2 separate regions of the Homo sapiens genome follow, and region 1 is linked to region 2. The links come from fine-mapping of genetic effects on gene expression. Tissue or cell type: whole blood. Region 2 holds a variant in brackets; the other region holds the start of a gene. Each region is shown on its reference strand, or each on the opposite one. Region 1 holds the start of TLR9 (toll like receptor 9). Region 2 overlaps CDK6 (cyclin dependent kinase 6).

Region 1 (5,375 bases), not on the chromosome of region 2:
AGCAGGGCCGGCCACGTGTGGACTGTGGGGCTGCCCACCTTCCGCTCCCTGCCACCATCCTCCTTCCTGGGCTCCAGGAAAGTGTTTCTGGGAGGTCAGGAGGGCTGGCAGCTGAACGCACTTGCAGCGTCCGAGGGCCACCGGGCTGGCATTTTGTGACCCTTCCCTGTTGCTGTCCCTGCATCTCGTCTGTGTGCCCAGGGTGTCCGGGGACCCTGCCTGGCTGGCTTAAGGGGGCTGGGTCAGGGGCCTGGCATGAACCTGGCCTCCCGGGGAGCTGAGACTAGGGTCCCAGCACAGCCCAGAAACCTTTGGCCACAAGAAGTGGGGTCAGTCAGGGCTGGGGCAGGGGTCACTGCAGTTTGGGATGGTTGAATGCTGTATTTTCTAAAGAATAAAATATTTTTAAATCAAGACTTGTGCTTGGCCCTGAGAGACCGCCTCTGGCCCTGGGAATTGGGCAGTCTTGTGCATATAACTGTCCTTTCCCAACAGGGGAGAGGGGAGTGCCGGCCTGCGAGGTGGAGCCCCAGCACTCCACCTCCAGGTGTGTGGGAGAGGCTGTGCCTGTGAGTGGGCGTGCAGCCTCACGCGGGTCTCCCAGTCAACAGGAGCCCTGCTGGAGAGGCAGGCGCGCCTCCACTGTGACATGAGGGATCTGCATATGGTCATTTGCTGAGGCTGCCGTAACAAATTACCACCAACTTAGTGGCTTCGAAGAAACTCAAATGTATTCTCTTACAGTTCTGGAGGCTGGAAGACTGAGATGGGTCTCACAGGGCCAAAGTTGAGGTGTTGGCAGGGCTGGCTGTGTCTGGGCCCCTCAGAAGAACCCATCTCCTGGCCTTTTCTGGCTGTATTCCTTGGCTTGGGGCCCCTTCCTCCACCTTCAAAGCCAGAGGTGACATCTCTGATTCTGCTTTCCTCAGCCTCTGGGCTCCCATGGCCTTTTGTAGTCGAATCTCCCTCTGTCTCCATTTCATAAGGGACATTGTAATTGCATTCACCCTCCCTGCCCCCACCACCTACCCCTGTCAAGATGGGTAACTTAATCACATCTGCGAAGTCGTTTTTGCCACACTGTGGGGTGTTGGGGTCACGTGTTTGCAGGTTTGGGGAATTAGGACAAGGATCTCTGAGAGGGACTTTATGCAGCCTCCCACATGGGATAAGGGCTCCTCCTCGAAGGCTTCCCAGCCTCCCTGGGCTGAGGCCAGGACAAGTTTTTCTGTGGACATCGATATCGGTGTCTCCAAGCTGAGTGTGTCCATGTGCGTGGGTCTGTACCTGTGTGTGCAGACCCCTCTGTCAGCTTACTGGCCTCTCTGGTTTTCTGCCTCCAAAGAAGGCAGGGCCACTGCTGGGTATGGGGGTCTGGGTCCCTGGTCCAAGGGACTCTGGGAAAGTCTCAGGCTTGGGGCTCCACAGGAGCCCGAGCTTTGGTGTATCCCTCTGAGAGGTGGATGGAGGGAATGAATGCAGGTGCCTTCCACCCCAGGCAGGCAGGAGTGGAAGCATGGGGTTGATGCCTGCAGCCCAGCTACTGAGTGGGCACTGCTCTCCTTCCTGGCTCAGGGCAACATTCTATCCCTGGCGCCTTTCTGAGCCCCTGCTCAAGCCCCTAGAATTGTAGAGAGGAGAGCCAGACTAGCTAAGACCCAGAGGAGGCTTGTCCTTGCCCAGCCGAAACATTGGCTCCCAGGTGGGCAGGAAGACGATGCCATCGCCCCCTGCTGCTGAGCCAGCCAGATGCCTGGCACTATGGAGCCTGCCTGCCATGATACCACCCAGAGTGGGCCTGGGGGGAGCAGGCTGGCAGATGTGCAGCCTTGCCTCCTCCCAGCAGCAACAATTCATTAATTCATTCATTCAGCCTTCACTCAGAAATACCCTCTCTGTGCCTGCCCAGAGCTGACTGCTGGGTGTACATAATTCAGCAGATATCAAGCACTTACTATGTGCTGGGCACTGTACTGGATCCTGGGGATGCAGATAAAAGATCACTGCCCTTAAGAAGCTGACATTCCAGCAGGGGAATAAGACGATATACAATAAACCATGAAAGATCAATGATCCGGTGTGCTAGCAGTTAAAAAATGTTAGGACAAAGAGAAACATAGACCAGGCAAAGGAGCTCAGGAGTGCCAGATCTGGGGTGGGAGGTTTGTAAGAAGGCTGGATGGCCCTGTTGAGAGGGTGACATGGGAGCAGAGACATAATGGAGGCAAAGGAGGGGTCATATGAGACTTGGGGGAGTTTTCAGGCAGAGGGAACAGCACATCCCAAGGCCCTGAGGCAGGAGAATGCCCAGGGGCTACACAGTCAACTGCAAGCAGGCCAGTGGGCCTGGAGAGCACTCAGGGGAACAGCGGGTGGCAGGTCCCATAGGGCCTTGTTGGCCATCTGTGGACTGTGGCTTTGACTCCAGAGTCAGCCAGGGAGGGGTCTGAGCAGAGGAGGGACCTAGTGTGACTTAGGTTTGAACAGTTCCCTCTAGGGGCTGAATGTGACCAGCCCCTGGAGGGCAGAGAGCAGGGCAGGACAGCCAGAAGGGAGGTGGCACCTGCATGGGTCTAGGAGAGAGGATGGGGGCTGGTGGACATGGGGACGGTGGGCTGTGGGCACACCCTTCAGCATGGTGGACCCAGCAGAACTTGCTGAGGGGCCCGGGGTCACCCAAGGCTTTGGGCCCGAGGAATCTGAGTCTCCTCACCTAGATCAGAAGGAGAGTGGGAAGAACTGATGGGGAGGACTGGCTGGCGGCCCTGCTGGGCCAGCACACACCTGGCCTCTAGGAGCCCCATCTGGAGTGACGTGGTGTGTGCTCTGATGGGGCCCCAGGGGCTCTGGGAATGTGGAGGAGGAGGTCTTGTTTCCGGAAGATGTTGCAAGGCTGTGGTGAAGGCAGGTGCAGCCTAGCCTCCTGCTCAAGCTACACCCTGGCCCTCCACGCATGAGGCCCTGCAGAACTCTGGAGATGGTGCCTACAAGGGCAGAAAAGGACAAGTCGGCAGCCGCTGTCCTGAGGGCACCAGCTGTGGTGCAGGAGCCAAGACCTGAGGGTGGAAGTGTCCTCTTAGAATGGGGAGTGCCCAGCAAGGTGTACCCGCTACTGGTGCTATCCAGAATTCCCATCTCTCCCTGCTCTCTGCCTGAGCTCTGGGCCTTAGCTCCTCCCTGGGCTTGGTAGAGGACAGGTGTGAGGCCCTCATGGGATGTAGGCTGTCTGAGAGGGGAGTGGAAAGAGGAAGGGGTGAAGGAGCTGTCTGCCATTTGACTATGCAAATGGCCTTTGACTCATGGGACCCTGTCCTCCTCACTGGGGGCAGGGTGGAGTGGAGGGGGAGCTACTAGGCTGGTATAAAAATCTTACTTCCTCTATTCTCTGAGCCGCTGCTGCCCCTGTGGGAAGGGACCTCGAGTGTGAAGCATCCTTCCCTGTAGCTGCTGTCCAGTCTGCCCGCCAGACCCTCTGGAGAAGCCCCTGCCCCCCAGCATGGTAGGACAACAGCTCTCAGTCCCCTGGGGAAGGGGATATCCTGGGAAGGGGTGGGGAAAGAAGTGGGCTTGGCAGCTGCAAGCAACAGTGACGGGTTGTCACCCACATGGCCCTGGGGACACTCACTGAATCCTGAAGACTTCAGAGCCGAAGCCCTCTTCTTTTTTCTTTTTTTTTTTTTTTGAGACGGAGTTTCGCTCTTGTTGCCCAGGCTGGAGTGCAGTGGCTTGATCTCAGCTCACTGCAATCTCCACCTCCCGGGTTCAAGTGATTCTCCTGCCTCAGCCTCCCAAGTAGCTGGGATTATGGCTTGCGCCACCATGCCTGGCTAATTTTGTATTTTTAGTAGAGCCAGGGTTTCTCCATGTTGGTCAGGCTGGTCTTGAACTCCAGACCTCAGGTGATCTGCCCACTTCGGCTTCCCAAACTGCTGGGATTACAGGTGTGAGCCACCGTGCCCAGCCACTGAAGCCCTCTTCTGAGCAATGAGACCCAAACCCCCAGAGGGGACGAGGAGACTGAGGCACTGATGGAGCTGGGGCTGGAGCCTGGGTTTGGGTCTCACTGGGCCTGTAGCTTGGGGCTGGCTCTGTCTGGCACTTTGCAGGCCACCCCTCTCTCCATCTGTTCTGACCCATAAGGCAAAGGCTCTCGGGCTAGGTGAGGCAGGCAGAGAGTGATGGAGCTGTGCAGTGCCCTCTGGCCAGGGTCCCTGGGAGGCAGCCGGCCTGGGCCATAGTGGGAGACTCTCACACCTGCCTGAATCTTGGCCGAAGGAAAAGGAAGGGGTTGTGGGGTGGCTGGTGGAGGGCAGAGAGCGGATTTCAGGGCAGCTGGAGGGGAGGGAGCCAGCTGCCACCTTGCTCAGGAGCAGGAAGGGAAAGTCGGGGAGAGACCAGGGGGGGCCGTGGGCCACCTTGCCTGGCCTGGTATAGCCAGGGATTGGTTAAGTGAAAGCTGTAGATCATAAGTCTGGATTCTAGGTCTCAGTCCTGGTTCTGAAGCCTAATTCTGAGTCCAAGACTGGGTCTGAGACTGAGTTCAGGTTCCCCACAAGCCATGGGGGATGGGAATGGGGCTTGGCAGCCAGGAAGAACTTCTGCAGGTAGGGCTTGGAGAGAGGGGTTGGAAGATGCTAGAAGATGCCCATGAAGTGGAGTGGGTGGAGGTAGAGCTGGGGGCCGGCCACTCACACAGCCCTCCCACCCCCACAGGGTTTCTGCCGCAGCGCCCTGCACCCGCTGTCTCTCCTGGTGCAGGCCATCATGCTGGCCATGACCCTGGCCCTGGGTACCTTGCCTGCCTTCCTACCCTGTGAGCTCCAGCCCCACGGCCTGGTGAACTGCAACTGGCTGTTCCTGAAGTCTGTGCCCCACTTCTCCATGGCAGCACCCCGTGGCAATGTCACCAGCCTTTCCTTGTCCTCCAACCGCATCCACCACCTCCATGATTCTGACTTTGCCCACCTGCCCAGCCTGCGGCATCTCAACCTCAAGTGGAACTGCCCGCCGGTTGGCCTCAGCCCCATGCACTTCCCCTGCCACATGACCATCGAGCCCAGCACCTTCTTGGCTGTGCCCACCCTGGAAGAGCTAAACCTGAGCTACAACAACATCATGACTGTGCCTGCGCTGCCCAAATCCCTCATATCCCTGTCCCTCAGCCATACCAACATCCTGATGCTAGACTCTGCCAGCCTCGCCGGCCTGCATGCCCTGCGCTTCCTATTCATGGACGGCAACTGTTATTACAAGAACCCCTGCAGGCAGGCACTGGAGGTGGCCCCGGGTGCCCTCCTTGGCCTGGGCAACCTCACCCACCTGTCACTCAAGTACAACAACCTCACTGTGGTGCCCCGCAACCTGCCTTCCAGCCT
Region 2 (5,375 bases):
CCTTTCCTTTAAAAGTCATCTGAGATATTTTGTTCATATTCAATACATTGTGATTACATTTTTCTTATGGAACTGCTGTCATGTAATTCTTGAAATGGTATTTTTGTCAGGTTACAGATTAGCAAAAATTTTTAAAAAAAGGTTTTAGAAAGTCTTAAAATATTGGTCAATATAAGGAATCATGCAGTTGTAGCTATTTTCCAGTTTTTTGGGGTTTTTTTGGTTTTTTTTGTTGTTGTTGTTGTTTTTTGTTTTTTTGTTTTTTTTTTTTTTTTGAGATGGAGTCTCGCTCATTGCCCAGGCTGGATGGAGTGCAGTGGCACGGTCTCGGCTCACTGCAAGCTCTGCCTCTCAGGTTCACGCCATTCTCCTGCCTCAGCCTCCCAAGTAGCTGGGACTACAGGCGCCTGCCACCACGCCCGGCTAATTTTTTTGTATTTTTAATAGAGATGGGGTTTCACCGTGTTAGCCAGGTTGGTCTCGATCTCCTGACCTCGTGAGCCGCCCTCCTCGGGCTCCCAAAGTGCTAGGATTACAGGTGTGAGCCACCGCGCCCAGCCTATTTTCCAGTTTTTACATTCAAGTGTTCAGACCTGTCTGGCTCTTTTGTTTTGCAAGTGTAAGGGTTCTAGGTAGCCTAGCCCCATTCCTTATTGATTTATATAAATACATTACAGATTGTTTACCTCTAGCCAAATACCAGGGATTTTAATTCATGCTTAGCTCAGTTGTTGTATATGAAACTCATTTGTTATATTAAAGTTTCTGGCCGGGCACAGTGGCTCACGCCTGTAATCCCAGCACTTTGGGAGGCCAAGGCAGGTGGATCACTTGAGGTCAGGAGTTCGAGGCCAGCCTGGCCAACATGGTGAAACCCATCCTTACTAAAAATACAAAAATTAGCCAGGCATGATGGTGCATGCCTGTAGTCCCAGCTACTCGGGAGGCTGAGGCAGGAGAATCACTTGAACCCAGGAGGTTGCAGTGAGCCAAGATTGCACCACTGCACTCCAGCCTGGACAACAGAGTGAGACTCCATCTTAAAAGAAAAATAAGAATAAAAATAAAGTTTCTGTTTTCTCTTTATTGCCCACCAAAGTGACTATTATTTGATTTGGGGCAATTCCAGAGGGAGTCATTGTAGACAAAAAAAAGCATCATAAATATTATAGTCTAGCATTTCTAAGATTAATGTTTACAACCATTGATTCAAAATGCATTTCCTACCCATTGTGACTAATATAACTGTTAATTTTTAGTACAATGTTTACTAACCATTAATCAGACATAATTTAAGTCAGACAAAATTTCATAGTTTTGGGAAGAGCAATATTTCCCCAGATGTCTTCCATGGAGTACTAGGTCTGTAGGATGTGGATGGCTAGCCAGCACTGGAGCCAAAAAAGAGAGTATCCTACAGGCACCCTTAGGACTCTGATGTCCCTTGATGCCCTTTGTGAATGTCTGAGAAGTCTCTAATATGCTCCATTTCCTGAATGAAGTTAATAATAATGGCACCTTAAAAATTAAAAAGGATTATTTCCTTGAACCTGGAGGAGTCACTTCTACCTAATACCATTTTTTAAGAATATGCAAGTATATACATTAAAATTTATGTGAAAATGTTCTGCTCTATGGACTATTACACATCTCTTTAAAATTCCATGTTTTAAAAACTACCGATTGAAATGAGTCCTTTTTTCTCCAAGGTTTATCATTTAGGACAATTAGTAGTGGCTTCAGTGAGCTCACCTTTCGTATCTTGAGCATCCATTGAAACTGAGGCCTGGAGTCCAGTTGCTGCAGGTGGCATCAGTGAGTCTTAATATTTTGAAGAGAGCAGTATAACTCTGAGGAAAGCAACTTGGGTGGGTTAGATGTTATTTTTAAATTGTGTCATGCAAAGAGTGCTTGAAAACGGTTTCAGTGAGATGAAGCAACAGGGCATACTGCCAGGGTTGTTAGGTAACTTCTAAGACAAC[G/A]GTCCAGGGGGCAGATGACTTTTTGTTTCAGCAGTATTTTAGGATCACTTTATTCTCCAGTTATGCCCCCGTCAGAATTTTTTCTCTTTTGGAAATTACTATAATATCTTATATATATATATATATATATATGATAAACTATAAATGCAGTAAGAACTGGAGTTACTAAAATTACTATTGATTCCAGGTAGTGGTAAGCAATGTAATTTTTTCACTAAATATATTAATTATAATGGGAAATATTTTTAAAGTAATGTTTCAGAAACACAACTGAAATGGTCATAGTATGAAACAGCTCTGTGTTTGTATTTGACTTTAGGGACATGCCATTTTTGGTTCACTGCTCTTTTATTTTATTACAAAAATACAAGCAACAGATATAAAGAAAGTTGGGGATTGTGGAACTCCATTTTCTTTTTCAATAGGAAGAAAAGAGTGAAGTTGTCCAAGTATGTGGATTTAATAGCAATAAGCTGGCTTAAAAAAGCCTGTGAATAGTTGTAGTTATCTTGAATTATCAAGGCAAAAGAACTGTTTTGATAAATTTTCCACATATTAAATCCATGCATGATAGCAATCATATTTTTAGAGTGTGAGACTTAATATGATTTATGGTACTATCTTTAATAAATCTGTTAAGAGTTTTTACTTTATTGGAATAATTTTCCAGAATAAGTAACATTAGGGGAAAATATTAAGTTTAGGAATGGATATTAAAACTTAAAAACCAGAATGTTTAGAAGTAGATAAATGTGAGGAAAAAATTTTCAATGGATTCTGGTTAATTTTAATGGAGTTGTATAATTCACCCCAAACTGCCCATAATTAAAAAGAAGCTTGGATCTGGCTATGAAGCATGTGTAGTTGTTGGTGTTCTGTTTTTTGACCTGCCAGATTTAACCTAATTACAGTGGTGGGGTTTTTTTGTTAAGTGTTTTTTGTTTTTGGTTTTGGTTTTTTTTTTTCGTTTCCTTTAAAATTTAGTATAGATTCACAGAGAAGTCCAAATGTGGGGTCCATAAAGCCCAGAAATGCAGAAGGATGACATGGTGAACCAGCAAGGCATTAAAAGTTTAACAGAGGTCCTAGGAATACAACCCAAAAGGGATGTGAAGGACCTCTTTAAGGAGAACCACAAACCAGTGCTCAAGGAAATAAGAGAGGACATAAACAAATGGAAAAACATTCCATGCTCATGGACACAAAGAATCAATATTGTGAAAATCGCCATACTGCCTAAAGTAATTTATATATTCAATGCTATCCCCATCCAGCTACCATTGACTTTCTTCACAGAATTAGAAAAAACTACTTTAAATTTCATATGGAACCAAAAAAGAGTCTGTATAGCCAAGACAATCCTAAGCAAAAAGAACAAAGCTGGAGGCATCATGCTACCTGACTTTAAACTATACTACAAGGCTACAGTAACCAAAACAGCATGGTACTGGTACCAAAACAAATATATAGACCAATGGAACAGAACAGAGGCCTCAGAAATAATGCCACATGGCTGGGCACGGTGGCTCACACCTGTAATCCCAACACTTCAGGAGGCCGAGGTGGGCAGGTCACCTAAGGTCAGGAGTTTGAGACCAGTCTGACCAACATGGAGTAACCCCGTCTCTACTAAAAATATAAAATTAGCTGGGCGTGGTGGCCCATGCCTGTAATCCCAGCCACTCGGGTTGGGAGTAGTACTTGGCTGAGGCAGGAGAATCGCTTGAACCTGGGAGGCGGAGGTTGTGGTGAGCCAAGATGTGCCATTGCACTCCAGCCTGGGCAACAAGAGCGAAACTCCTTCACAAAAAGGAAAAAAAAACAAGAAAGAATGACACATATCTACAACCATCTGATCTTTGACAAACCTGACAAAAACAAGAAATGGGGAAATGATACCCTATTTAATAAATGATGTTGGGAAAACTGGCTAGCCATATGCAGAAAACTGAAACTGGACCCCTTCCTTATACCTTATACAAAAAGTAATTCAAGCTGGATTAAAGACTTAAACATAAGACCTAAAACCATAAAAACCCTAGAAAAAAACTTAGGCAGTACCATTCAGGACACAAGCATGGGCAAAGACTTCATGACTAAAACACCAAAAGCAACGGCAACAAAAGCCAAAATTGACAAATGGAATAAAATTAAAGAGCTTCTGCACAGCAAAAGAAACTATCATCAGTGAACGGGCAACCTACAGAATGGGAGAAAATTTTTGCAATCTATCCATCTGACAAAGGGCTAATATCCAGAATCTACAGGGAACTTAAAACAAATTTACAAGAAAAAAACAACCCCATCAAAAAGTGGACAAAGGATATGAACAGACATTTTCTCAAAAGAAGACATTTATGAGGCCAACAAACATATGAAAAAAAAGCTCATCATCACTGTTCATTAGAGAAATGCAAATCAAAACCACAATGAGATGCCATCTCACACCAGTTAGAATGGCAATCATTAAAAAGTCAGGAAACAACAGATGCTGGAGAGGATGTGGAGAAACAGGAATGCTTTTACACTGTTGGTGGGAGTGTAAATTAGTTCAACCATTGTGGAAGACAGTGTGGCAATTCCTTAAGGATCTAGAACCAGAAATACCATTTGATCCAGTGATCCCATTACTGAGTATATACCCAAAGGATTATAAATCATTCTACTGTAAAGACACATGCACACATATGTTTATTGCAGCACTGTTCACAATAGCAAAGACTTGGAATCAACCCAAATGCCCATCAATGATAGACTGGATAAAGAAAATGTGGCACATATACACCATGGAATACTATGCACTCATAAAAAATGATGAGTTCATGTCCTTTGCAGGGACATGGATGAAGCTGGAAGCCATCATTCTCAGCAAACTAACACAGGAACAGAAAACCAAACACTCATGTTCTCACTCATAAGCGGGAGTTGAACAATGAGAACACATGGACACAGGGAGGGGAACATCGCACACCAGGGCCTGTCGGGGTGGGGGGGTTAGGGGAGGGATAGCATTAGGAGAAATACCTAATGTAGATGATGGGTTGAAGGGTGCAGCAAACCACCATAGCACGTGTATACCTATGTAACAAACCTGCACATTCTGCACATATATCCCAGAACTTAAAATATAATAAAAAAAATTAACGGAGGTAATATGTAAGCAGGATAATTGATAGTCAACCCTGTGCATCAGTTATTGGACTCTATGCACATTTATAGTTTCTTTGAAGAAGGCATTTATTCAATTTTTTTTAAAAATTAAAGTAATATGAATAGTATTTTATTAGCTTTTTCTTAGTATTTATATTACATTCTTGTTAAGAAATGTACTTACAGCTTGTTTATGGGTAGTTTAATTCTTCAAACATTTGGTGAGAATCTGTTGTGCTAAAT

The links. PIP is the estimated chance that this variant, and not a neighbour inherited with it, causes the effect.
Region 1: TLR9 starts here. The variant in region 2 is fine-mapped to the expression of TLR9 in whole blood (TOPMed, PIP above 0.99).

Annotation. Positions count from the first base shown.
Region 1 is chr3:52,223,651-52,229,025 of GRCh38, reverse strand. TLR9 (toll like receptor 9) reads left to right here and starts at 3,381. Exons shown (of 2, transcript NM_017442.4): 1 at 3,381-3,499; 2 at 4,714-5,375. The coding sequence starts at 3,497. It overlaps TWF2 (twinfilin actin binding protein 2), which reads left to right. Exons shown (of 9, transcript NM_007284.4): 9 at 1-414. RefSeq lists enhancers at 2,248-2,747, 2,902-2,991, 2,748-3,249, 3,502-3,601.
Region 2 is chr7:92,775,664-92,781,038 of GRCh38, reverse strand. The region is part of intron 2 of CDK6 (cyclin dependent kinase 6); the gene reads left to right. Among named protein-coding and RNA genes, the nearest start is that of CDK6-AS1, 58 kb to the left of the region's middle. The variant G/A (reference allele first, on the strand shown) is at 1,983.